Linked DNA regions of Homo sapiens. The protein of the gene in region 3 interacts with the protein of the main gene of each other region in a biochemical or structural test. Each region holds a gene or a part of one and is shown on either strand. Other genes may lie near its edges. The genes, in order: ST13, BCL2 and BAG1.

The links.
Region 1: the proteins of BAG1 (region 3) and ST13 interact in a biophysical measurement, tested with the Homo sapiens proteins (one study listed by IntAct).
Region 2: the proteins of BAG1 (region 3) and BCL2 form a complex in vitro, tested with the Homo sapiens proteins (one study listed by BioGRID).

Annotation. Positions count from the first base shown.
Region 1 is NC_000022.11:40,846,551-40,853,660, forward strand, and holds part of ST13 (hsc70-interacting protein), read right to left. Parts: intron 4,331-7,110; coding exon 4,273-4,330; intron 1,820-4,272; coding exon 1,744-1,819; intron 1-1,743. UniProt on the Homo sapiens protein: One HIP oligomer binds the ATPase domains of at least two HSC70 molecules dependent on activation of the HSC70 ATPase by HSP40. Stabilizes the ADP state of HSC70 that has a high affinity for substrate protein.
Region 2 is NC_000018.10:63,127,763-63,134,872, forward strand, and holds part of BCL2 (apoptosis regulator Bcl-2), read right to left. Parts: intron 998-7,110; coding exon 863-997; 3' UTR 1-862. UniProt on the Homo sapiens protein: Suppresses apoptosis in a variety of cell systems including factor-dependent lymphohematopoietic and neural cells. Regulates cell death by controlling the mitochondrial membrane permeability. Appears to function in a feedback loop system with caspases.
Region 3 is NC_000009.12:33,261,599-33,268,719, forward strand, and holds the start of BAG1 (BAG family molecular chaperone regulator 1), read right to left. Parts: upstream 3,111-7,121; 5' UTR 3,077-3,110; coding exon 2,626-3,076; intron 1,233-2,625; coding exon 1,104-1,232; intron 1-1,103. Other genes in the region: CHMP5 (charged multivesicular body protein 5), read left to right, coding at 3,481-3,549, 4,412-4,516, 6,255-6,301. UniProt on the Homo sapiens protein: Co-chaperone for HSP70 and HSC70 chaperone proteins. Acts as a nucleotide-exchange factor (NEF) promoting the release of ADP from the HSP70 and HSC70 proteins thereby triggering client/substrate protein release.

The DNA.
Region 1 (7,110 bases), on a different chromosome or scaffold from region 3:
AGGTGGAGAGTTGGTTAAAAAATTTATTGTAGTTTTAGAAACTGGTAGAAAGTAAGACTAAAGAGGCATTTTATAAAAAGTAAAAGATCTTCAATTTAGCACTCAAACAACTGCCAGTAGAATGTAAGACCTCTAATGATATCAAAGATAATTTGATTCAGGCCAGGCGTGGTGGCTCACACCTGTAATCCCAGAACTCTGGGAGGCCAAGACGGGCAGATCACCCGAGGTCAGGAGTTTGAGACCAGCCTGGCCAACATGGTGAAACTCTGTCTCTCCTGAAAATACAAAAAAATTAGCCAGGCATGGTGGCATACGCCTGTAGTCCCAGCTACTCAGGAGGCTGAGGCAGGAGACTCGCTTGAACCCAGGAGGGAGAGGTTGCAGTGAGCCGAAACTGTGCCACCACACTCCAGCCTGGGTGGCAGAGCGAAACTCAAGTCTTCCAAAAAAACCCCAAAAAAACAACAAAAAAAAACTGATTCAAAATTTAAAACATTTCAAGTACTTTTCTTCAGGTTCTGTGATATAAGAGACTTCCAAATTCATGAAGAAATTTAGTCAATTTGTGGCCAAAAAACCAACCAAACTCATAGCACAGATAACTACTCTTCTAAATATGAACCAGTTTTATCAACATGGTTGTAAGAACTAAACAAATACTATTTTTTGGCACTCAATTCAGTTATGGGAAAACTTTTGGCTGGGCATGGTGGCTCACATCTGTAATCCCAAACACTTTGGAGGCCAAGGCAGGTGGATCACCTGAGATCAGGAGTTCAAGACCAGCCTGACCAACATGGCAACATGGCAAAACCCTGTCTCTACAAAAAAAAAAAAATACAAAAATTAGCCGTGCCTGGTGGCACACGCCTGTAGTCCCAGCTACTAGGGAGGCTGAGGCATGAGAATTGATTGAACCTGGGAGGTGGAGGCTGCAGTGAGCTGAGATCACACTGCTGCACTCCAGCCTGGGCGACACAGTGAGACTCCGTCTCAAAAAAAGAAAAAAAAAAAAAAAAAGAAAACTTTTTAAGTATGCTTAGAACAACTTTAATATGTAACCCAACTTTTTCTAATACAAACATTATGAAGTCTGATTTATTATCAATGAAAATGTAAAACCTGAATTGAGGGGTGCCACATGTGTAAAATACCCTTTGGAGTTTGAATGCTATTAAAAAAAGAAGCAAAATAAATTATTAACAAATATTGAGGCCAGGTGCAGTGGCTCACGCCTGTAATCTCAGCACTTTGGGAGGCCAAGGTGGGTGGATCACGAGGTCAGGAGTTCGAGGCCAGCCTTGCCAACATGGTGAAAGCCCGTCTTTACTAAAATTATAAAAATTAGCCGAGTGTGGTGGCAGGTTCCTCTAATCCCAGTTACTCGGGAGGCTCAGGCAGGAGAATGGCTTAAACCTGGGAGGTGGAGGTTGCAGTGAGCCGAGATTGTGCCAGTGCACTCCAGTCTGGGTGACAAGAGCACGACTCCATCTCAAAAAGAACAAAAAAACAAAAAAAAATATTGATTACACATGTCAATATTTCAACCAATATGCCATTAATATCTGAATTTATTTCATGTTTCCTTTTACTTTCTAAAATGTGACTACTAGAACATTCTAAGTTTCATATGTGCCATTATATTTCTATTACACAGTGCTGATTTAAGTCACTTTAATAAAAATCAACAAAGTATCACATCATAGGTTTTCAAATACAAACTAACTACCGTCTCCTCACCTAGATCACTTTCCTCACTTGATGGTTCGTCTGCCTTTAAGTCTTCCTCCACCTTCTTACTATCAGGTTTTTCTTCCTAGCAAAGGGAAGACAAACAGTACTATCAGTATTTAATAACATACCGAATATTTATACTAATTTCTACAAATCTATGTATAAACTGTCAAATATGGCCAGGCATGGCGGCTCATGCCTGGAATTCCAGCACTTTGGGAGGCTGGGGTGGGTGGATCATTTGAGGTTAGGAGTTCAAGACTAGCCTGGCCAACACGGTGAAACCATCTCTACTAAAAATACAAATTAGCCGGACGTGGTGGTGCCCGCTTGTAATCCCAGCCACTTGGGAGGCTGAGGCAGGACAATCACTTGAACCTGGGAGGCGGAGGTGGCAGTGAGCTGAGATCATGCCACTGCACTCCAGCCTGGGCGACAGAGCAAGACTGTGTCTCAAAAATAAAAAAACAACTGTTCAAAATAAAGTTTGAACATTGACAATAAACAGTTTAGAGATTATAAATAGCCTCATGTCCACTCACATTATATTTTATTGCCAAATTTAGTAAAAATCTTTACAAGGGTTTTTGAGTTTTGGAACTGCAAATAAGAACCTGTGGAATTACAATAATAAACAATGAAAATTCAAAGAATTTAAAAGTGCACGACATATAGAAAGCAACACTTTCTTCCCATCCTATAAATAACCAGTGTGGTTTCTTGTATATCCCATTGCAGGATAGTCTCTCTATATATGAAACAACTCTATCCTTTGCCTTTTGCATTTAACAACGCTGTGTATCTTGTAAATTATATACCATTATCAGCCTACCTTCATCTATTCACTCAACCATATATTGTTAACCATTTTTAGGTTGCTTCCCTGTTACTTAAAAAATTAGAACCAAGGCAGGGCGCAGTGGCTCATGCCTGTAATTCCAGCACTTTGGGAGTCCGAGGTGGGTGGATCACGAGGTCAGGAGATTGAGACCATCCTGGCTAACATGGTGAAACCCCTTCTCCACTAAAAACACAAAAAAATTAGCCGGACGTGGTGGTGGGCACCTGTAGTCCCAGCTACTCAGGAAGCTGAGGCAGGAGAAGGGCGTGAACCTGGGAGGCAGAGCTTGCAATGAGCCAAGAGATCGCACCACTGCACTCCAGCCTGGGCAACAGAGTGAGACTCTGTCTCAAAAAAAAAAAAAAAAAAAAAAAAATTAGAACCAAAAACCTACCTTGTCACAAAATATTTGTTGAGTCCCTATAAAATGTGCAAAGTCTAGGTATTCTAGAATATATTGAAAAGAAAAGACAAGCCATAATTCTAGTTTAGAATGTTTTTCTTACAAAAAATTTTCAGCTGACACATAGGTTAAATATAATTTTGCCTTCATACACATTTGCCAAATAGCAAAATATCTAGGGCTCAGAAAATACCACTCTGATAAATGGTCCTTTTAAAAAAAAGGTAACTACTTTTTGGGCTTTTGCTTACCTTTTCGCATTCTCCTTCTTAATAGACATAACTTCCACTTTAAGATCCAAATAGATAACAATGTTTAAGTTTCTAAATAATAAAACAGCTATTTTCTTGTCGATTTAAGACAGCTAATCAGAAAATTTGCAAAAAAAAAAAAAGCCTTTTAGATATGAAGGCAGAAGAGAGAAATAAAAAATTATGAAGAAAGCATTCTGGGCCAGGCATGGTGGCTCACGCCTTAGTCCCAGCACCTTGGGAGGCTGAGAGATCAGTTGAGGTCAGGAGTTCGAGACCCACCTGGCCAACATGGCGAAACCCCATTTCTACTAAAAATAGAAAAATTAGCCAGGCATGGTGGGATGCACCTGTAATCCCAGATACTCGGGAGACTGAAACAGGAGAATCGCTTGAAGCCAGTAGGCTGAGGTTGCAGTGAGCCGAGATTGTACCAGTGCACTCAGACCTGGGTGACACAGTGAGACTTTGTCTCAGGAAAGAAAAAACAAACAAATAAAAGAAAACATTCTTAAACATGTATGTTCCCCTTCATCTGTCTCTCAACTTCAGCTACTGGTAACCTTCTCCTAATCTTACACGTCCTTTAAGCAAATATGCTAACCCAACACCATGATTCACACTCACAAATATCACTCAGGTAGTAGAGCAAAAAAATTAAATTACTGACCTGGGATACTTCATTTACTCTGCAAATAATAAATAAAGTACCTACAATGCATATGACACACTGTAAGGCAATGATGAAGACTACGGATGCACACCATCACGGAGCTTACCACTTACAGGCCATACATGTAACTTTTATTGTCATGTATTCTAAAACAGTGAACATCCAACCCTAAATTCTCAGTTCTAAATCAGAATCCAGAGAATTCGGGTCTACAAAGTTATAAAGATAAAGAGGTCTTAAAAGGTCTTATTTCCAAGTGATCTTGGGGAAATCAGGAGTGATAACTGGAGAGCAGCAGTTTAAAAACAACCCCTAAGAAATCTTATAGTACTTTATCACAAAACATACAAATGAAATTAAAACTTACCTTGGTATTTTCTTCTGATTTAGCTTTCTGAGTAGCAGGTGGTACTTTACCACCCATGCTTGAAGAAGATGAGAAAAAAGATATTTGTTTAGAAAATTAAAATTCACTGTCACGCAACGTATTTACACCTAAAAAATAACGTTAGACATTTAGATGACTACCTTTTCAAAATTTAAAAGTAAACTCTCAATTAATCTGAATGCTGTGGTATTATTATGGTTAAATTTTTTCCAGCTTAAAATTTATTTTAAGGCTACTGGCTAATGAACCCCTTTCTTTGCCTCAATGAGTCAAATAAACATAATGTATAGCTTCTCTGTGCCTCTTCCCAGAGGAAAAGAGGCAGATATGTCAACATGCAATGACAAAATCATTTGCACAAGCTGTTAACTTAGAATTCAACTCAGTAGGTATATCTGAATCCTAAATTTGAAACTTGAAATAAGAGTTCAATTAAATTCAAATATGCAGTTTATGAAGTAACTATACCGTCATGATATAATTCAAAATGTTTGTGTCCTGTGACTGAGACCTATGAGAATTTTTCTTGCTTATATTTGCATGCCCATCACATTATAGATTTTCTCCTTATACACCCCTCCCAACCTCATCCATTAATACTTCCTCCTGACCCTACAAACTCTTCTTTCCCAAATAGTTCAGGGCAACACAATTCATTATAAGCAAATAACTAGAAGAGAAAAATTACAAAGAATTAGCGTTACATGCTCCATTTGGTGCAGACCCTATAGTATATGGGCTACCTGCAACAATCCAGTGACTAAAATGGTTGATAGACTTAAGAGCACTCCACAACAGTTGGAAGCAACGTAGACATTATTAAAATTTGCCTTAAAAACAAACAACAAAAGCCATTAACTATGTAAAACAAGGGGATATATTAACTTTGAAAACAGAAAGGGTTCTTTTTTTTTTTTTTTGAGATGGAGTCTTGCTCTGTCACCCAGGCTGGAGTGCAGTGGCACAATCTTGGCTCACTGCAACCTCCACCTCCTGGGTTCAAGCGATTCTCCTGCCTCAGCCTCCCAAGTAGCTGGGACTACAGGGTGCATGCCATCACACCCAGCTGATTTTTTGTTTTAGTAGAGACAGGGTTTCACCATGTTAGCCAGAACGGTCTCGATCTCCTGACCTCGTAATCCGCCAGCCTTGGCCTCCCAAAGTGCTGGATTTACAGGCATGAACCACTGCGCCCGGCCTGATTCTTTGTAACTAGAGTTGTCATATCCACACTTACATTCATTTCAGTTGGGTGGAATTTGTGGTCATAAGGGTATGTGCAGGCTGAATTTAAATGGGCATCAGTTTTCTGAAGTTCTTTTATCAATTTACACTTTTATCAGCAATGTATGAGAATTCCAATTGTTTCACGCCTTGGCCAATGCTTAGCTATTGTCCATCTTAAAGATTTTTTAGCCATTCTGATAGGTGCCTACTGGCATCTCATTGCAGTTGAGTCCCTTTTCATATATTTACTGGTCATTTAAAAAGACTTTTTTGTACAGTTCAACTCTCATCCAGCTTTCTAATAGATTGTCCTTCTTTATTTGAAGGTGTTGTCTGTATTCTGCATATGAACCCTTTGTCAGCTTTATGTGTTGCAAATATTTTCTCCCACCCTGTAGGTTGCCTTTTCACTCCCTTAGTATCATCTGAGAATCCCAATATGAAGCAAAAGTATAAATGCAAAGTAGCAGATGGAATGAAAAGAAACAGAATTTGGAATTTCTTATAAGCACCATTCAAACGAAGAAAATGTGCCTACTTTTTCCATTATGTTTAATATGATAGAAGAAAATGTTACACAGTACCCTTAATATGGAATAGCTCCCATGTCAAACATAAAGATTATATGATCCAAAACATCCTAATCTGCAATTCAGCAAAGTAAAATGATTTAATGATAAGGAACAGGCATATAGACACCACAAAATTCTTTTCTATGGAAACACTACTTTGCAAAAGAGCACAGTAATCACCAGTCCTTTGTAGTTAAATTTTAATGAAGACACAGGGTTTCTTACACTGTGTTCTTCCTAAGTTTCAAAATGCAGCGTCAGGAATGTATTTAGAGTGACATCCAGACATAGTATAACTTACAGTACACTAACTTTGGGAAGTGATATTCCTGCCAAGAAATGTATTAAGCTAAATCCAATCCTAAGGGAAGGCCAGACAAACCCAAATTGAAAGTCTATAAAATAACTTGCCAATAACATTCAAACTGTTAAGATCATGAAAGTCAAGGAAAGACTGAGGAACTGTTTCAGAATGGAGACTACGTGACATGGCAACTAAATGCAACACATAAATCTGAGGATTAGATAGCATAAATGCATCAGCATTAGTTTCCTAAGTTTAGTATTTGCATTGTAAAGACTTTGTAGGAAGTACACACTCACTGGTGTTGGGGTATAATGTTGGCAGCTTACTCTCAACTAGTTCAGAAAAAATTCCTTTGTACCATACCTGCAATTTTTCTGAGCTAGAAATTGTTGCAAAAAAAATAAAAACTTTAAAAAAAAAAGAGGATTTACTCATAAGCTAGATTTAGTTTCTCCCATCCCAAATTCTAGTTAACTAATGGAAGAAAACACCAACTCATAGGTACGAAATTTCAATTAATGCTTCCAAGGCTTAGAACAAGCTACTTTCTGGCCAAAAACTGCCACTTAGACTTTGGCACTACAGGCTTTTTTATGTTACACAATCAAGTAGGACCAGTGTAGAGACTTTTCTCACATAGGACCACATAAAACTTCATTCACATTTCTCTTAATTTGATAACCTTCTAATCTGCTTTGTGCTATGGTTATT
Region 2 (7,110 bases), on a different chromosome or scaffold from region 3:
CTGTTTCTTACTCAGACAGAGCCAGTATTGGGAGTTGGGGGGTGCGTATCCAAAATATATGAATATACACAATCAGGGCTTAAGGTACTGGATGATATTGTATAAATTGCTAAAATGCTTTTCTCGGCACAATTGGTAGCTTAAAAAAATACTTTCCTATGATTTAAGGGCATTTTTCCCATCGCTGTCCTTCGGCGTGGAAATCTCAGTGGGTACTAGGTCCATCTGAAGTTCCCAACTCTTTTCCTCCCACCAGGTATGCATCATGTGAGTCATATGCAAAGAGTCTCTTCTTCAGGCCAGGGAGGCATGGACTTCCCCCCACAGGAACCCTCCCTCTGTTAATATCACAGCCCCCAGGGCAAAGAAATGCAAGTGAATGAACACCTTCTCCCCAGCCTCCAGCAGCCAGAAAGCCAGCTTCCCCAATGATCAGGTCCTTTTTCCATCCGTCTGCTCTTCAGATGGTGATCCGGCCAACAACATGGAAAGCGAATCTATGTTTACAGGCACAGAACATCCAGGTGGAGCCACACGAAGCGGTGCTTGGCAATTAGTGGTCGGATTTCCAAAGACAGGAGTTTTGATGGGACTGTCTTAAATAAATAAATCTTTTTTTCTTAATAATGTAAAAAATAAATGATATTTCCCTTTGGCAGTAAATAGCTGATTCGACGTTTTGCCTGAAGACTGTTAATTGTTGTGTGTGTGTGTGTCTGTCTGTGTGTGTGATGTTTATATGTGTGTTATTTTTTCTTAAACAGCCTGCAGCTTTGTTTCATGGTACATCACTGACAATGCATATTATTTCTACTGCTTTAGTGAACCTTTTGCATATTTGTTTGGGGCAGGCATGTTGACTTCACTTGTGGCCCAGATAGGCACCCAGGGTGATGCAAGCTCCCACCAGGGCCAAACTGAGCAGAGTCTTCAGAGACAGCCAGGAGAAATCAAACAGAGGCCGCATGCTGGGGCCGTACAGTTCCACAAAGGCATCCTGCAGTTGGGGGAGAGGAGGGAAGAAAAAGAAAGAGTATTAGAGAGAGAGCAGAGAATGCCACCCCACAGAGAAAGAGGCATCCTGCCAGGGCAGCCTGGGCACCTTCAGAAGGGTGAGAGGGGAAAAGGCAAATGCTCTTTGGAGGCCATGATTCAGAAACCACTGTTTTCATTAATTCAAGGCATATTTATTGAGACCCTCTTTACGTGCCAGCCATCTTAGAGATACAGCAGTGCATAAAATAGACTAAAAGTTCCTACTTCACGAAGCTTCCATTGAGTGGAACAGTATAGACAGCAATCAATATAAATTATCACATGGTGTAGGAGAGAGTGCTAAGGGCCGAGGAGAAAAACAGCAGAGGCAGTTAGAAAATATTAGAGGTTTTGCAATTTTAGCTAGCATGCCCATCCATAAAAGTAATAAAATCTAGCAATGATGATGACCGTCACACTCCTCGATTGAGTGTTGACATCTTATCAAATGTCTGACATGCATTATTTTAGTCTTTGTACCAAACTTTTTCTTTCTTTTTTTTTTTTTAGAGACAAGAGTCTTGCTCTGTTGCCCAGGCTGCAGTGCAGTGGTGCAATCATGACCCACTGCAGCCTCGAACTGTTGGACTCAAGAGTGATCCTCCTGCCTCCGCCTCCTGAGTACCTAGGATTACCATGCTTGGCTAATTTTTAAATTTTTTGTAGAGATAGGGTCTTACTATACTTTCCAGGCTGGTCTTGAACTCCTGGGCTCAAGTGAGTCTCCTGCCTCAGCCTCCCAAAGTTCTGGGATTAAAGGCATGCGCTTTCTCATCCAGCTAATTCTTTGTACCAATCTTATGAAGTTATTTTATTTGTTTCTGTTCTGAAGATGAAAAAGCTGAGAATCGCAGGGAATAAGAGACTTTTTAACAAGTGGCAGAGCCAGGCTTTGAACCCAGATAGAAACCAGCACCCTTCTCTCTGCTGATGCCCTGGCGTGGCTAACGGCAGCTCTATGAGAGCATTTGGTCAGTCAAGGGCTCAGTCAGTGGAGGGGCCAAGGGCGGCCTTGACTGGTGCAGTGCCAACCTCTAAGGTCAAGGTTCTCCTGGGGAAAGGGAGCTGTCAGGGGGTTTCTCTTGGGGGTGGCTAGACTGGACGACCACAACTCTGCATTTACTCAAATTGTGGATCTCACAAGGCAGGAGATCAGGGGTGTGTCACTGGATGTGCAGGTCCCTGAGAGACAAAAAGTGTCTCCCTTCCATTCCTATCTCTCCATCTCAAGTCGGGTCTGTAGTGTGTTGTAGCAAAGTCTACCCTCTGGATGGGCTTGGATTGAGCAAATCACCAATTGCTCATTTCCTAGATTTTGGGGAGATTATGTTTCACATTTGGGTCCAATGAGTATTTGGACAACTTTCTGAATGAATATTTGAATATATAAATCAGTAAATGAATTCTTTTTACTTCTGATTTATTCAGGATGAAGAAGAAAACAAGAATAGTTTCACATTATTCCCAACAACCCTGACTCAAAGCACACAGTTTTATTACAGGAAACAGTAACATACCATGACCCTGGACATCGCTGTTGGGAGGGGCTCCAACAGTGCACAGAGGGGTTCCCTTTCTCTGGGGCAAGGGCTGTAGCAGTGGGACCAGGGATTCTCTTTGTCTCCCTCATGCTGGGCATGGTTGTGGTGCACTATAGGTGCGTAGTAAATGTTTGTTCACTTAAGCTTTCTGAATACAATCATTGGTCTTTGGCTTAATGCTTTACCCAAATGCTTATGAATCTGTTTGAAATTACTCCTTCTATATGTAACAGCCTCTGAGAATCCTGAGGTAGTCTTGATGAGGATTTAAAGCATTGTTAGGGTAACTTTCCACATTATTAAATATAGATTTATACAATTATTTTCATGATATATAAAATGTGCCATACTTTAAAAAATTCATGTTTATAGTGTTTAAAACTTTTGCTATTATAAACAATATCATGATATATTTTTGTATATAAATTCTTGTCTATTTGTTCAGTTGCTTTTTTGAAACAAACTCCTAGAAGTGACCTCAGTTAACCAGTCATCAATATTGCTTCCAGACATCATGAAGGGCTTGCCTTGAGCCATCCTCACATTCTCATGGATTGCCCTCCAACCAATGCCACCTTTTACAAAAGGCAGGCAAGAATTTAGGGCGAGGGTCACACTGAGAGTGATCCTGTCCCCCAGGGGACATTTGGCAATGTTTGGAAGCATTTTTAGTGGTCATGATTTGGGGTGAGGGTGCTACTGGTATCTAGTGGGCAGAGGCCGCGGATGCTGTTCAACATCCCACAATGCACAGGGCAGCCCCCCAATGCTAACAGGGCCGAGGCTGAGAAACTCTGGTTTATAAGATGCTCTGTAATCACAGACCATAGAAGAACAGATGACCCATCCTGTGTGTCAACAGCATTGGTCAAATCAGCACAATCAGCTAGCCCAGACCAGCGACTGCTAACCCAGTGGGCCTTCTGCATCTTTGGAGGTCCTTGGTTAACTTTTACCAGGAGAGGGCGCAAGGGCTTTCTTCTTCTTTTTAAATATCTATTGTTAAACATTTCTAAATTTCAGTGTTAGAAAAGCGAGGCAATAGACGTACATAAAATGTGTGTTTAGTGCTCTTAGCACAGAGCTAAGGCACAATCATGATTGTCTGCCAAGATGCACACCCCTCTCCATATAAGCAGGGATCAGTGGGGCAGGAAGGAGTCAGGACTTCTCCACAAGCCAGAACTCTGCCTCTTCCAGGGAGCAACCCAAGACATCACAGACACGGCTGCAAATGTCAACTAGTCCTCCCATCCATGCTTCTCTCTCTGAGGGATGGGTAGGCTGAAACCCCCAATAGCCCAGCCAAAAGACACCCCAAATTTGTCAGGGCACTGGCAATAGGTTGTCTGCAATTTGGCTTGACATTGAGAAGGTCAGTGGCCGGGCTCTGAATCCCTTTAGTAATCAACAGAGTTTTGTGTGGCAAAATCTGAACCAGACTAAGCCCCTGATCATTTGTCCTGTCTGGACCTGAAGCCATCCTGGGAAACCGGAGGATGCAGGGACATACTCCAGCTGGCATTTTCTCCCAGTTGGTCTGGCACACAGTGCTGGAGAGCAGAAGAAATGCTGTCCCAAATATCCCCACCTCCTCAGAGCTGGAATAATTCCCTCTCACCACCCTCACCCCCACACAAATAACAGTGCTTCTCATGAACCTAACAGGCCATTTCTGATATGCATTACGTAGAACAATGTCATTTCTAGAGTGAGATGAGCTAAACTAGCAGCTCTTGGCCCAAAGCCTCAGCATAGAGATGCTGTTGCCATCCCAGGGGGCTGAGAAGGGCATGGGACTTGGAGGAGGAGTGTGGGTGAACCCTGGCTTTGATATTTTATTAGTTTATAACCTTCAGCAGATAACCCAGCCCCGAGCCTCATTTACTTCATCCATAGCCATAAAATTCATTATTGTGAAGATTAACGTAGGTCACTCAAAGCCATTTGTAAATTGGATACAGAAAGTGAGCTCGTGGCAGAACAAACACCTTGCTCTTGTCTGTCCTCTTGCAGACCTGCTCCGCACCTACTCAACCTGCCCTTCCCCCAAGAAGTTCTGCTGAGCCTGCCGTTTTGCAGAAGCAATTTCCTCTCTTAGCTTTCTGATCTGAGGATAGTCCGTAATTTCTATAGGAATTATGAATTAAAATGTATACATCCCGTGTTCTGGTCAAAGATGGGAAGTGATAATACAATGCCTACCTATCTGTCCTTCTTTACACATTATTAGAGTGTAGGGCTAGAGGGCAAGTCATTTAACCCCCTGGAGGTTGGAGCTGGCCTCTAAACTTTGCCCTTCTACAATTCCAAAGTGCAAAGGAGACCCTGCGGCTTCGGGACTAAAATGACCTGAAAGCTTCTTTCGTAGAAAGTCTTCCTGATTTTTCAAACATCCTGATTGGGGCGATTTCCGAAGTCTGTTTGAACAGTCTGTCATTATTTGTTTGAGTTTGAAAGCTGTTTTAAATAAACACATGCTCATTTTATGTATTAAAAGCAACAAAGAGGGAAAAAGAAAACCTGGGTCGTCATGTGATTCGGACAAAATCCCAGTCTATATATTTAGGAAGCTCTGTGTCCCTTGCTCATGTCAGGACTGGCAAGGGCTTACCCGACTTCACGGATCACAGGTTCACACGGAAAGGCTGGCACCGGCTCCTCCTATGAGGAGGAGATGGGCAGGGCCTCAGCTCTGGTGGCTCTGTCCACAGTGGCTTCCCCATAAATTTCCAATTCAGAGGCCACAGAGGATCTGAGTTCCACCCAGGGCTGGCCCAAGGGGACAGGATGGCTAAACTCCCAGCCGCAGCCTTGCTGCAGGTTTGGAACCAGGCCAGGTAGGTGTGGACGGGAACAGACCAGGGTCAAGACTCCTAAACTCAGCAAAGGTGTCCTCACCCCTCCGGGCCATGGAGCACTCCCACCTGGGAGGCAGCCATCCTCCAACATTTTCCTTTTCCGTTCAGAACCTTCAAGAATTTTTTTTTTTTTTTTTTTTTGAGATGGAGCCACTGTCACTCAGGCTGGAGTGCAGTGGCTCCCAGGTTCAAGCAATTCTTCTGCCTCAGCCTCCCGTGTAACTGGGACTACAGGTACCCTCTACTACGCCCGGCTAATTTTTGTATTTTTAGTAGAGAAAGGGTTTCATGTTGGCCAGGCTGGATTCAAACTCCTGGCCTCAAGTGATCCTCCCACCTTGGCCTCCCAAAGTGCTGGGATTACAGGCATGAGCCACCACCCCTGGTCCACTTCGAGAAATTTCACGTAAACCTAAAATGAGAATTTTTTTTAAAAAAGGTCAGATTGTCAAGAATGGAAGAGAAGGTTAATTCTAAGTGCTGAAAAGAATGGCATGCGGTTGGGGATATGGGCGGGGGTCCCAAAATAACCCTTATGCCCAGGTAAAGGTAAACATGGAGACCTTTTGAATTTGGTAATGCATATCAAAAGGCTTTTAAAAAGCTTTTGTTAGTAATTTCACTTCCAGTTATTTATTTTGGAAAAATAATAAAGTGCACAGATTATGTATAATAGCATAAACCTGGAAACAAATGTCTGAAAATAGATGACTGACAGCGCGTCCACATGATGGAGTGCTGTTCAGCATTAAAAGTCATACCCTATAGTTATTGGCAAGAAATTGTGTTCCTAAGGTCATATTGAGTAAAGCAGGACAAAACGGTCAGCAAAACACGATTCCACTTCTGTAAAAACCTAACATATACATGTGCGCGTTTACAAACAGAAAAAAATAATATAAAGGAAAACGCAAAGATGTTAACAGTGATTATCGTTGAAGGCAGAAGTAGGCATGAGGACATGGCATTTAAGAGGCTATTCTGATTTTTTTCCTTAGCTGTCTTTTCTAATTCAATACAAACATGTATATTACTATTTATGAAATATATTTCAATATATACTACATAGAATAATGTTACATTCTAAGTGCTTACTTAATCTGAAAAAAATCCAGACTCCATAATTTGACAGACAAAAATGCTGGGAGATGATGTCTAGTAGTGGGGAGACATGGGCTCCCAGGCAGCAGCCATGACCTAGAACCATGCAACAGGCCCCCGGTTAAGTGAGGGCCTCCTTAGACCCTGGCCCAGAAGAACTCTCATGAGCTCTGCCCCTCAGACCAATGCCTGCAATAAGAGGTTCAGGCCCCGAGCTCAGTGTGTGTTCTCAGCTCTCTATATACTGGGGAAATTTAATATGGCTTGGCTGGCTATAAGCAAATTCGAAATTCAGCTACATTCCACAGTCTTTGAGCTGACTATGCATGCAGACGTTATACAATCGAAGGGAATTCTAAGGGAGAAAAGCCACCCTGTCCCCAAAGAGCTTACACTCTAGAGAGAGGTAATGCCTCTATGTGCACATTTGAACTAAACTAAATCAATGGGTGCCGCCATTTTGTTCCTGCAGACTGCAGAGTCTCATCGGCAGTAAGAAGAAAGTAAAAAGAAAATCAGACCATGCCAATGGGAAATCAAACACAGCTATCGAATGACTTTGATATTTTCTA
Region 3 (7,121 bases):
TTTTTCATGCATTCCTCTATTTTGAAACATGAATTTCTATTGTCTTTATAATTCAGAAATAAAATATTTTTAAAAATTAAAGACAATATGTTACACTATGAAATATAAATAAAAATGCCTCCTATTACTAAATTCTTTATAATGACTGACACCCAATGGGGTAAGTCTTTCCCCAGTGGATACCAGAATGATAGATTCTCAGGGGGGTGGGAAGACAGAGGGCAGGGGCCAGGAGGGTGTGGGTCCTGGCAGAAATGAGCATCATGCATCCACTGAGCCCGCCACATCCAGGCCTCAGGTAAGTTTGCTCAAAACCTCCTTTGAGTCAGAACAATGGGAGGCACTGGAAACACAGCAGTATCTCCACCCTCACGGAGGCTGTTATTTTAACAGAGAAATCAGATGTTAAGCAACTAAGAAAATGATTATTTAATAGTAATTTCATAGAAGTGATGCAAAAATAGCAGGGAGTACCATGGTAACATATAATGGGAAGATGATCTAACCTAGCGAGGGAAGACTGCCCATGAGCTTCATCGAAAATGGTGAGATTTCTGCCATCATCATAAGACTTCAAATCTGACACCTGTCCAGGTGTTTGAGAGTGTCCAATACCTAGCAGGTCCTCAATAAATATCTGTTGAAGAACTGAATGAATAAACAAATAAATAAAAATTGTCCCAGTTTGAAAACAGAGTGACTATTAGGAAAAGTTCAGCAGTTTTAAAACTGTCCTTTGGCCATAAGGAAAAGCCGGAAAAGAAATGCTTACCCTTGGCCAGGTGCAGTGGCTCACACCTGTAATCCCAGCACTTTGGGAGGCCGAGGCGGGTGGATCACCTGAGATCAGGAGTTCGAGACCAGCCTGGCCAACATGGTGAAACCCTGTCTCTACTAAAAATACAAAAATTAGCCGGGCATGGTGGTATGCACCTGTAATCCCAGCTACTTGAGAGGCTGAGGCAGGAGAATCACTTGAATCCGGGAGGCGGAGGTTGCAGTGAGCCTAGATCGTGCCATTGCACTCCAGCCTGGGCGACAAGAGTGAAACTTCGTCTCAAAAAAAAAAAAAGAAAAAGAAAGAAAGAAAAAGAAATGCTTACCCTTAAATATGAGTTTCTGAAAAGACTGTGGAACCCCTATGACCTCTTCAACAACCTGGGCCAGGTCTTGGACAACTGGTTCACTGCTGCCCTGCTGGGAGGTAACATGAAGGTCGTGCTTCTCATTGCCTGGGGAGAAAGAAAAGCATTTGACGAATATGATTCTTTCACATACACCAATATAGGATGACACTTTATCACATTTATTTACCCAGCCTTCAAGGCCCAGCTCATATGCCACCTACTCCACAGAGCCTGCCCCCATGCCACCCAGCTTTCCTCTGGTGACCTCCTCAAGTATCTCTGTTTCCTCTATTATAATAACTAACAATATGAATGATATCTGCTAACATTTTAAGCATTTCATGCATAATCTAATTTAATCCTCAGATAAACCCCACGAAGTAGATCTACCTATTACTTCTTATTTCACAGATGAGCAAACTGTGACTTCAGGCAAGTTAAGGACTGCCTATGGAGACTCAACTGTTGGAATCAGAAGTTGATATCAGATCTAGCTGATTCCCAAGCCCACCTTTTTCATCACAAGCCATCTGCTTCCTGTGGCTTGACTGCCCTGTACCCTGTATTGTATTGGTCTCGTCTCGCTTGCTGTAATGGGCAAGTGACTGTTTTCCTCCAAGTCTCTCCCACTGAACACACTTGAGTGCATCCATGATTTGTGCTAAGTAAACAGACAAATGCATACGAACAGCAGAGCCTTTCTTTCTGAAGAAGAGACGCCAATTCTTTTCCAGGGATGCGGACAGCAAGGAGGGAGCCTGTGTACAGTACATTACACCAAGGTTTGGTTCCCCCAACAGCTCCGTGAGGTCAGCAGGAGCCAGGGTTACCAAATCTACTTCACAGAGGAGAAACCGGATTCTTAGAAGAAGCCGTCCATCCCAAGGTCACTCAAAACCGCAGGATCTAGAATCCAGGTCTCCAGATTCCCAGACCCTTGGGCCTCCCCTAGCTGGTTCTAGAGAAACCTCATGGACTCAGCTCTCCGGTGTACTGACTTCATTTGGTGGTGTGTCAACTCCAACAGTAGGCAGACCCAAAGGGTGCCCAGAGTACAACGCTTGGACCCACGGCCAACTCAAGCGGCGCACACGGAGAAGGCACTCAGCACACGAGGAGCACCCCGGCATGCACGAAGTTCTGACTTATCACACACGGAGCAGTCGTAGACCACATGGCCCAATATATGCCTGACACAAAGGGCACAATAACTGCGCGGGCACACAAACACAACCAGGCCCACGACGTAAAGCACGGAGAAGCTCAAACACCCAGGATCGCACAAATGACCAGAGACAAAATACACCGGCCACATGGAAAAGTGTACAGACACAAGCCCGGGACAAAAGACAGTTCCACGGACACAACCAATAACCCACGCTTCCGGACGCCAGGACAAGCGCAAGGTCACACGCTTCTGGAGGACACGTGACTAAACCCACAGACCCCGCCGGGCTTTCGGGACCTGCATGGAGCCCACCTGGCGCCCGACACTCACTGTGGGTGACAGTCACGGTGAGCCCAGCTGCCGCCATTTCCTCCCTGGTCACCTCCTCGCTCCGGGTCGACTCCTCGTCCCGGGTCACCTCCTGGCTCCGATTCATCTCTTCGCCCTGGGTCGCCTCCTCACTCTGGGTCGCCTCTTCACTCCAGGTCGCTTCCTCACTCAGGGTCAACTCCTCGCTCCGGGTCAACTCCTCGCTCCGGGTCGAGCGGCGCCGGGTTTTCTTCTTCATCCGCGGCCTGCGAGCGCCGGCGGCGGCGCCCCTGGTGGGTCGGTCATGCCCGCTGGCAGTACTCCGGGCAGGTGGACGCCCAGAGGGAGGCGGACCACGCTGGGCCGGGGGCTCCGACTGGCGCGGCTCCCGGCCTGGCCGAAGGGCGCGCAGCCGGGAACCCAGCCGCTCCCGGTCGCCTCGCGGTCTCCGCGCCCCCCCGCGCTGAGCCAGGCCCGCACTTGTTGACCGCCCAGCGATGGAAGCTGAGCGCGGCGTCTCACAACCCCGCCCGACTACTTCCCAGCCCCGCCCCGGCCTGCCGGCCCCGCCCTCGCCCTATGCCGCGTTAGTTGCCTCCAGGCCCCACCCACTCAACTGAGGCCCCGCCTTGCTACAGTAAAACCCCTCCCACTCCTTCTACCAACACCCCGCCCCCTGCAGGCTCTCTCCGAGAGCACCAAGTCCTTTTGCTCTCCATCCCCGGAAGACCCGGCTGAAAATCCGGAAAAAGAATCGGGAAACGCCAGGAGGCATATTGCGCTTGCGCACGGAGGGGCCGGAAGTCGAGGCGGGAGTGACTCTGCTTCCGTTTCTGGTTTTGCTCTAGTGTTTGGGTTTCTTCGCGGCTGCTCAAGATGAACCGACTCTTCGGGAAAGCGAAACCCAAGGCTCCGCCGCCCAGCCTGACTGACTGCATTGGCACGGTGGGCATTTGATCATGCATAAGTAGGCTCAGGACCTCTGACACACCCGACCCCGCCCACCCCCAGCCCCGGGCCCATATTCTTCCACTTCATTTCGGGTCCTGGGCCCCTTACACGTCGTCCCTCTCTATCTCACCTTCTCCCCTTCATCCCTGTTACCCAAGTCATTCCTAACGCCACAAACCAGGGAACCCCTAACCCCATCACTGCCTTGCCCTGCCAGCACCCAACCCGTTTTGATGCCCATTGCCCGTCCACTCGCTCTCGCCTTGATCCTCTCACCTCACCCAGCCCTAGGCCCATACACCCTTCCCACCTCATCCTGCCTGATCCCTTACCCTTCTTCCATCTGTCATCCCCAGTCCACATCAGGACTCAGCTTGATATCCTAGGTCAACATATCTGTGCCTTCGTCCTGGATCTCAGTAACACAAAACTCAGAACCCTAGCCCCTCAGATTAAGCCACCATCCCCGATTTAGGGAATGGCATTAGATCTACAATCAGCTGGTTTCACTTGGCACTGGCCCATTTCATGTGCCTCTTGGAGGAACTCTCAGCCTGGCTAGTCTCTGATTCTAGGGAAATTCCAACTCAACTCAGTGATTCTCAAATTATTTTCTGCCCCAACCCACTTGAAGGCTACCTGGTATATCAGAATCGGGGCAGTGTGGCGGGGGGTAAGAGAATAATTTATAAAGCCCAGGGTTTCTGGTTGGGAATACCCTTCTTTGTGAACCACTGTTTTTCACCCTTCCCCTTAAGCTCCTCTTTTCTTCCTCTGTATTCCTTCCTCTCTACCTGCCCCTTCTGGAATAAGTGTATTGCAGTAACTACCAGTGCATTTGATATTTTCCCCTAAGGTGGACAGTAGAGCAGAATCCATTGACAAGAAGATTTCTCGATTGGATGCTGAGCTAGTGAAGTATAAGGATCAGATCAAGAAGATGAGAGAGGGTCCTGCAAAGGTAAGGTGGGCAGCAACTGCTGCACAAGGTGCTGGCAGAGCCTAGTTTTAGCACCTATAGAAATAGGGCCTAGTTCGGCTGGGCGCAGTGGCTCATGCATGTAATCCCAGCACTTTGGGAGGCTGAGGCGGGTGGATCACGAGGTCAGGCATTTGAGACTAGCCTGGCCAACATAGCGAAACCCTGTCTCTACTGAAAATACAAAAACTTAGCTGGGCATGGTGGCAGGCGCCTGTAATCCCAGCTACTCAGGAGGCTGAGGCAGGAGAATCGCTTGAACCTGGGAGGCGGAGGTTGCAGTGAGCAGAGACCACACCATAGCACTCTAGCCCAAGTGACAGTGTGAGACTCCGTCTCAAAAAATAAGTGAAATAGGACCTAGTGCAGGGGCTGTGAGCATCCCTACAGAAGAGATGCTTACAGTCTGGTAAGGAGAAAACATGTGAGGGTGTATCCTTTAGGGAGGAGAGTTTGCAATCAAATATGGAAGGGAGGCTGGGGATTGATCTGGTGGAAAGAGATGCTGGTCACACGTCTAAAAGCATGTACATGAGAATTAGCATATTATACTGAGAAGGTGGTAATCTGGAGAGGAAGACTAGGCTGTGCTCAAGATCAATGACTTGCTAAGCTGGTCAGGTTAGGTTGGTATATTAGACTGCTTAAGGAGTGGCCTGCTGGGAAAAACTGAACTAGGCATCTGGGACCAGTGTTCTAATACACTGTCACTGCCTTCTAGTTGTGACCTTGATAAAGTCACTTATTTTCCACTCCTGTTAGGTAGAAACATAAAATACTGTGTTTAAGCACATGGACTGTGGATATAGAACTACCTTGTTTTTTCCAGATCCATAACTTATTAACCATGTGAGCCTGGGTATCACTGAACCTCTCTTTCCCCATCTGTAAAACAGAGATAATACCCACCTTACAGTATGAGGATTAAATGAGGTAATTGATGTGACCTGTGTACCACTATGTCTAGGATAAAGTAGTACTCAGTAAATATGAGTTATGATCATCTGTGAAGTAATAATACCTGTTTTTCCTTCCTCACTGGAGAAGACAAATAAAATGATCTACAGAATTCTATAGAAAAGGAAGGCTTTTCCCAGCCATCTTAGTGGATGGTGTGGAATGAAGAGCAACCAGAGGTAGGAAAGCCCATTTAGATTTGAGACAATGAAAGCCCAAACCATGGTGGTAGGAAACCAAAGAATCAGTTTGAAAGTGAGTTCTGAAATCAGCTAACAGGATGACTGTGCATGAAGAAACAACAGAAAGAGGAAAGATAAGGTTGATAAAAAGGTTTTCAACCTAGAGAGGTGAGAGATTGGTGGGCCATTGTTACTTATTTCAAAGGTGAGATAAGGTTCAGGAGTTTGGAATTGTTGAGGTTAAGTTGATGGGCTGTACAAGTGAAGAATCTCCCTAAGGCAACTGGATATACAGACTCAGCACTTTTGGGGCTAGAGGCAGAGATAATATGCATTAGGAAAAGAGAAAGTAGTTGAGGACTCTGGGATGTGGGATGCAAAGACAGATAGGAGCAAAGGCTTAAAGACTGGACCTTAGAGATACCTGTTTTTGGGAGGGGAAGTACAGAATCCAGGAGCCATTATGCCTACTACTTTGAAGAAGAGAGGAAGTAGGCATGTGAGTTTGAGGCTATGGGAAATTTCTTTTACCGTATATGTGTTTTCCACCTTATTTTTATTAAATCTGTTTTTCTCTCCAGAATATGGTCAAGCAGAAAGCCTTGCGAGTTTTAAAGCAAAAGAGGATGTAAGTTACACACACAATTTCTACCTCTAGCAGGTTTAACTAAAAGAGAAATGGTCTTCCATTCCTTCAGGTTTTCATACTATTTTCTAAGCACTCTTGATTTAATTACAAATTTTCATTGACGTGTAATTAAATACAGTTAGCTGGGTTGTTATCTGTTGTAACAACTTCCATCTAAATAGAACTTTTTGCCATGATGGAGATGCTCTATATCTGTGTGTTCAATACAGTAGCTATTAGCAACATGTGGCTATTGAGCACTTGAAATGTGGCTAGTGTGACTAAGGAAATGAAGTTTAAATTTTATTCAATTTAAATAATTTAAGTAGCCTTATATGGTTAGTGACTACTGTTTTGGACTGACCAGATCTGTAGGGTTTGGTTTTCCTATTATTTATTTTAGAGTGTACCTTTTTTGTTTTTGTTTGTGAAGTTAGGAATCCTAAATGTTTGTTCCCTCCCACCAGAATAAATTTAAAGATCCTTAATTTGTTTTAGGTGACTATGTCCCAATTTTGAGCAGAAGCTAACTAGTATCTTTGGTGCCTACCTCTGTAGACTGTTCAGCTGATGAGATCCTCTGCAGGGTTATAGAGGTCAGGTATAATTAGCTATCGAGGAGCCAGAAAGATTGTCAGTGTCTCTCTTCCTATATTAAAATGACTTTTTATAAGATACCAGATGCCATCTTCCTCCTTTTAGATTAGATCAAATTGGAAAAAGAAATTGTAATGCCTAGACTGGTGAGGGTGTGGTGAAATGATTTACCTTCTTAATTGGTGGCATTGCTAGTTTTAAGTAACCTTTTTTGTTATAAAAA